2 linked regions of the Homo sapiens genome follow. The protein of the gene in region 1 interacts with the protein of each later gene in a biochemical or structural test. Each region holds a gene or a part of one and is shown on either strand. Other genes may lie near its edges.

Evidence for each region. Proteins that work in one complex are often made in the same cells at the same time.
Region 2: the proteins of EWSR1 (region 1) and SMARCC1 form a complex in vitro, tested with the Homo sapiens proteins (one large-scale study listed by BioGRID).

The regions. Positions count from the first base shown.
Region 1 is NC_000022.11:29,288,768-29,292,267, forward strand, and holds part of EWSR1 (RNA-binding protein EWS), read left to right. Parts: coding exon 1-19; coding exon of another isoform or gene 20-23; intron 24-1,645; coding exon of another isoform or gene 1,646-1,736; exon of another isoform or gene 1,737-1,917; intron 1,918-2,794; coding exon 2,795-2,832; intron 2,833-3,369; coding exon 3,370-3,402; intron 3,403-3,500. UniProt on the Homo sapiens protein: Binds to ssRNA containing the consensus sequence 5'-AGGUAA-3'. Might normally function as a transcriptional repressor. EWS-fusion-proteins (EFPS) may play a role in the tumorigenic process.
Region 2 is NC_000003.12:47,771,894-47,775,393, forward strand, and holds part of SMARCC1 (SWI/SNF complex subunit SMARCC1), read right to left. Parts: intron 1,044-3,500; coding exon 924-1,043; intron 1-923. UniProt on the Homo sapiens protein: Involved in transcriptional activation and repression of select genes by chromatin remodeling (alteration of DNA-nucleosome topology).

The DNA of each region.
Region 1 (3,500 bases):
GAGGACGCGGTGGAATGGGGTAAGAGCAAACCTTTTCTCCTTTTACCTAATTTTGTTTCATCCATAGGATTTTCAGTGGAAAGAAGGGACTGAAAGACATAAGAAATTAATTTCTGCATTTCCATGGACAATCTGTTGAGCTCAAGCCATCTTCTAAAACATGGAAATGTCATCTTTGTGGCATATATTAAGTGGCAGTTTATTTTCTTTCCCTGCCAGTATACTTCGTTGGGTCGGGGAGAACAAAGAATGGTTTTGAAACCAGAGCTTTCAGTTCCCTTCATGGTTTCCAGAGGTGAGAAGCCTCTGTGGGTAGTAGATTTGGGATGGAACACACACAACCCTTCTAATGACCCTAAGTTGTTAACTAACTGCCTTTGAATGGTTGTCTTGAAATACCTGGTGTATATACTGCAGAAAAGGAATGCAGCTGTTTTCCACAGTGTTTGTCCCCAACTTCTGTTTGTACTCAGAATCGTTGAACATATGAAGATTTTGGTCCCATAATCCTTAAACTATAGCCTGAGGTGCACCTGATTACATAGAGTTTGGATGGAGCAAAGAAAAATCCAATAGCATTTTGCAGAGTAATGTATATAATTATGGGCTCACTTCCTACTGGAGATGTTGAAAGTCTAAATCGGTTTGACCATTTTGATTGATGGCACAATCTGGTTTAGAAAACTTTGTTTAGATCAATGACATAACCCTGCTGCCTCTGCCTGCCCTTCCCCTCCCTTCTCCCATCCCCTTTTCCCTATCTGGTGTCTGTACTTTGATGAAGGTGAGCTATAATATTGGTGGTTAACATAATCCAGAAGGCTTAGTTCTGTGTGTGTTCTGTCCCTATATAAACTGGTAAAGAAAAAAAAAAGTTATGCAGAATGTTAGATATTTACATTTGATACGGTGTGCCACTATTCAAGGAAAAATTAAATAGCATTTTTTAAAAAACAGAATGAACTTCAAAATTAAAGTTGATTTTTAACTTCCATATTAGCAAATACTCTTCACTACTGAAAGACAGTACTATTTTGCATATTCTGCATAACTTTAAGAAAGTCTTTAGTGAAATCTTTATTGGAAGAAAGTCATTTGACAACAGGCAAAAATTTAATGATTCGGTATGAAGTAAAATCAATCTTCTGATTTGGAAAATACTCTATTATAAAGGTTTCACTTCTTTTTGGATGTTTTAAAATAGACATAGACACTTGAAAGTACTATCATCACGTCTCAAATCACCTAGAATTCCTAGTATTTTTAAATTGCAAATACAATTTCAAGTTTATTTAAATACTCCAGAAGTTATAATCCTACTAATTGTGCTAGACTTTGCTAGTAGAGGGGGCCCCTCTTTCTGGATGAGAAGTCTCTCTTGCAGCCATAGAAGAGACCATGGCTTTCCCCATAGGTTTTTCAACAGACTGTGAAGCAGTCTGTCGGATCCTGTGGGGATAGACGGGCATTTCCCTCGTTGCCCCCCTTTTTATTGTGGTGTGGTGATGGTTTTCAGTGTCTTGTACAGGTAAGGCACTCAATGTTGTTAACATGCCCTTTTTCATTGCCTCAGTATTTTGATATTTTCATTGGCTGTTAAACGTGGAAACTTTTTAACATGCTTTGTCGCATTTATATGCTACAGGTTACAAAGTGAGAGCCTTGTATACACTTCAATACTTAAAAAGTACCCGTACTCAGTACTCAGCCGGCAGCATAATGAAAAGTGGGACTAGACACGGTGTCCATATGGAGAGGAAAAATATACATAGAATATTTTTAACAAAATGTATTCATTGTATAAATGGAATCCTTCTGTAACTTTGGTAACTGCATACTTGTTGTTTGGTAATGAACCAGAGGAGGTATAATACTCTAGAATTGTGTAACATTAAAGTGTAAACTTTTGTGTTTAAAGAGAGAGAACATTTTATGGTGTGTACTTTTAAAAAGGAAACAAAGCTGCATGCAACAGCTTGAAATTGTATATTCAGGTATTAAAGGTGCAATACTGGTTAGAAAAAACTCAGGGCCTCCCACTGGGGAGCTGCCTTTATTTAATTTTAAAGAAAACAAAATCTAACCCAAAAAGTCCAATTCATATTTCCCTCTCCCCTCTTTAAGTAATTTTACATGGCCATAGTCATTATTCTAACTGATATGTCTATAAAGTTGCACCCCCAGTCCGTTGAGCCTTGGTATTTGTTGTAAATTCTCCTTTCACAGCGATTGTTAAATCTATTCGTGCCCTGAGATGTATGGCTTTATGCTGAAGATTGGCTGGATGCGTCCTCTGATGTGTGTTGTAGGAATTTAATGTGGTTGTCTCCTGCTTTTATTATACTGTGACTTGTTAGGAAACCCTGGGCCTCATTTGGCTCTCCCTTGGGAGAGGTTGAGGGTGCACCTTTATGAACATGGAAAGGTTTATCACAGCAGTTAACCCCCACTTGCTCCTCCCCTCTATACCAAGCTCTTCTGGTTTTTCACCTGACGGGGTGGGTGTTTGGGATCTATTTTTTCTTGCTAATTTGCCAAGTATTGCACTATTAATACCAGCCCCCGAAATGAAAGGAACCAACCACACTGGTGTGTACAATCAGACAAGCAAGGTTGTATATTGAGGAAATTTGAGCAAGCTGCCCTGAAGAAAGGCATAGTGACAAGATGAGAGAGATGCATTGTTTGGAGATGTGTTTAGCCAGTGCCCTTCTTCCCCACGAGCCCCCCCAAGGCTCAGAGCGGTACTGGCTTTTAAAGGGAAAGGCCTTCATTTCTTCGTTTATCCCCCCAGCAGCGCTGGAGAGCGAGGTGGCTTCAATAAGCCTGGTGGTAAGTTTTTGAGTATTACCATAGATAGTGTTTAAAAAAAAATGCAGTCAGTTTTTAGAAAACTATAATTTTTTTATTAGTTTCATAAGTGGTTTAAAAATGATCTATACAAAAGAGACTAATGGGTACTGCCGGCATTGTCTTAGGGGTTAATAAGGTTAACCTATGGTTACAAAACAAAGGGTAACTTGAAGTATTGAGTAACTGCTTCTGTAATATGGGGGAGAATAAATTTTTAAATTTGGTTTATTTAGAGGAAAAATTTTGACTTAAATTTAACACTGATTTGGCACATAAGCATTGAGAGTGTATTTGGTTAATGGTTTAGAAGCAAACCAGCAAAGGAAAAAAGCAAACCCTAGCAAACCTTTCACAAATGTTAAAGAGACACTGCTCCATTTTAGCAGTGCGGGTCATTTTGAGTTTAATGAATCCCCATCAAATGGTGGTATAGTAGATAGCTATGTGTGTTTGTAAGGTTTGTAGCTTGCAAGACGTGCACTAATAATATTTTATATGATCTTTCCTGGTTGGCAGGACCCATGGATGAAGGACCAGATCTTGATCTAGGTAATTTTGAATTCTAGTTGTGCTTCATATCGTGCTTTGTAAATTAATGGTACAGAGGTAAATGCATGCGTAGAGTTCAGCAGCCTTATAGACCAGTG
Region 2 (3,500 bases), on another chromosome or scaffold:
CAACATGGTGAAACCATGTGTCTACTAAAAATACAAAAATTAGCTGGGTGTGGTGGCGCGCACCTGTAATCCTAGCTATTCGGGAGTCTTGAGGCACAAGAATCGCTGCAGGTTGCAGTGAGCCGAAATCACACCACTGCACTCTAGCCTGGGTGACAGAGCGAGACTCTGTCTCATAAATAAATTAATTAAATAAAATAAAGATAGCAGAGAAGGGCTGGTGTGGTGGCTCGCACCAGTAATCAAAGAGCTTTCAGAGGCCAATGCAGAAGGATCGCCTTCCCGCCAAAAATTTGAGACCAGCCTGGGCAACACAGCAAGATCCCATCACTACAGAAATTTAAAAGTCACCCATATGCGCGTGGTAGCACATGCTAGTAGTCCCAGCCTCTTGGGAACCTGAGGTGGGAAGATGGCTAGAGCCGGGAGATCAAGGCTGCAGTGCGCTGTGATCAAACCACTGCACTCCAGCCTGGGCAACAGAACAAGATCCTGTCTGTAAAAACAAAAATAAAACACACAATTGCAAGGACACCAAAATTATATTCTCACACAACTTCAGAAGGTATCTCACCTACAAAATATAAAAAATTCCATAAATTCTATTTATGGCATAAGAGCTGCATCAGGAGAAAGCATGGAGAAGACTCGGTACGGCGAGAGGATAGGGAACTGCAACATAGTAAAATATTGTTAGGTCTTCACAATGACTGCTGCAATATTTAATGCAAATGTTAAATGCCTCTTCAAAAAGCAGCTTCCTACAGTTAAAAAATAGTAATATTCTATAACTAAAATTTGTTTTTTGCTTTTTTTTTTTAAATTCTACACGCTAGCAGCAGCAAAGGAAAAAAGCTGGATGCTACACCTAAAAGTATACAGCAACTGAGGATGCCCAAATAACAGTAAGCTGATGTACTTACAGGGAGTTTGGTGAAGGCCGGGTTGGTGACATGCTTCCCAAAGGCATCTTCCTGGAACTGAAGAAGCTGCACCACCAGCCCAGCCAGTGTTTTATTGGTAGGAGCATCCGCATGAACATACTGCAAGATAAAGACAGGCATTCAAAAACTAGTACAATTTTTGCAGGAGAAAATGTTGGCTTACTTCCTAGTACCTACTAAGTACTTACGTTATGGGAAATTTATAGATGTCTGAGACACGCTCTGTGCTATAAAGGAGCTTACAAAAACAAATATGTGTGTGCATTTAAAAATGGTTAAGACGGTTAATTTTTTTTTTCTTTTCTTTGAGACGGAGCTTCGGTCTTGTCACCCAGGCTGGAGTGCAGCGGTGCAATCTCGGCTCACTGCAACCTCTGCCTCCCGGGTTCAAGTCATTCTCCTGCCTCAGTCTCCAGAGTAGCTGGGATTACAGGTATGAGCCACTACCCCCAACTACTTTTGTATTTTTAGTAGAGACGGGGTTTCACCACATTGGATAGGCTAGCCTCAAACTCCTGACCTCATGTGACCTGCCCCTGCCTCGACCTCACAAAGATAAATCTCCTGTGTTTTTTACCAAAAAAAAAAAAAAAAAGTGAAATATTATCCATATTAATGTAAAGAATGTCAAAAGCCCAAACCAGTAGTAGACACATCAGCTAGGAAGCTTCACAGCAAGGAAAAATAATGGGTAACACAACAAGAAAAGAATAAATTAGTGAGTTAAATGTAAAAGTTTTATTTGGCAATTACATGTTCAATATCACTTTGAGTAGCCAATACTCTCAAAAAATTTTTTTTCTTTTTTTTTGAGACAGAGTCTTGTTTTTCACCCAGGTTGGAGTGCAATGGCATCATCTCAGCTCACTGCAACCTCCGCCTCCAGAGTTCAAGCGATTCTCCTCCCTCAGCCTCCCTAGCAGCTGGGACTACAGGCGCGCAACCACCATGCCCGGCTAATTTTGTTTGTATTTTTAGTAGAGACGGGGTTTCACTATGTTGGCCAGGCTGGTCTTTAACTTCTGACCTCATGATCCGCCCACTTCGGCCACCCAAAGCGCTAGGATTACAGGCGTGAGCCACCACACTCAGCCTCAAAAAGTATTTTTAAACCTCCAATTCCAAGCAAGAAAAACATCTATACCTGCCTTTCAGTTGGACGAGAGAATTTTTATTTTTTTATTTTTTTTTGCCGGAGCTAACTTTCGAACTACCATCCAACATTTCAAGGTTAATGTGGTATGTCTCTATTACAATAAATATTTTTTAGATGAGTGGTGTATGGTCAAAATTACATCAACTGCAAAGTCTACAATTATTATGCATAGGACAAAGGGCACACAATTTCTGCTACTACCATTGAAACTTACTTACAGCATATAAAAAGGCAATCATTTACTTTTTTTTTTTTTTTTTTGAGATGGGGTCTTCTTCCATCACTTAGCCTGAAATGACGAAACCCCGTCTCCACTAAAAAACAAATACAAAAAATTAGCTGGGTGTGGTGGCGCACACCTGTCCCCATGCACTCCAGCCTGGGTGACAGAGCCAGACTCCGTCTCAAATAATTAATTTTAAAAACTTTTTTTGTGTGTGTGTTTTTGGAGTCTCGCTCTGTCACCCAGGCTGGAGCACAGTGGCGCAATCTCTGCTCAGTGCAAGCTCTGCCTTCTGGGTTCACATCGTTCTCCTGCCTCAGCCTCCCAATAAACTGGGACTACAGGCACCCACCACCATTCCCGGCTAATTTTTTGTATTTTTAGTAGAGACGGGGTTTCACCATGTTAGCCAGGATGGTCTCGATCTCCTGACCTCGTGATCCACCCGCCTCAGCCTCCCAAAGTGCTGGGATTACAGTACTGTGCCCAGCCAATTTTAAAAACTTTAAAAACTACATACTACTTTCCCCTTCCTTATACTATATTGATAATTTGCAACAAAAACTAGCAAGCCTAGTTTTTGAAGGACCATATACTTTTTTTTTTCAAGACAGTGGTTTCTTGCTGTCTCCCAGGATGGAATACAGTGGTGTAATGACAGCCACCGCAGCCTCAATCTCCTGGGCTCAAGTGATCCTCCTCCTCCACCTCCCAGAGAGCTAGGACTACAGAGGCGTGCCAACACATCTGGCTGATTTTTAATTTTCTGTACACAACCGTTTTCACCAACTTCTCTGGGCTAGTCTAGAACTCCTGGGTTCAAGTGATTCTCTCACTTTGGCCTCCCAAAAAGTACTGGGATTAGAGGCATAAGGTACTGCACCTGGCCCATATACTTTCAAGTGAAAATTTGAAGTCAGTTTTTCTCCAATATACTCAACATAGTACTTTTTTTTTTTTTTTTGAGACAGTCTCACTCTGTTGCCCAGGCTGGAGTGCAGTGGTGCGATCTTGGCTCACTGCAAGCTCTGCCCCCCAGGTTCACAACATTCTCCTGTCTCAGCCTCCCGAGTAGCTGGGACTACAGGCGCCCACCACCACGCCTGGCTAATTTTTTGTATTTTTAGTAGAGACGGGGTTTCACCATGTTAGTCAGGATGGTCTCGATCTCCTGACC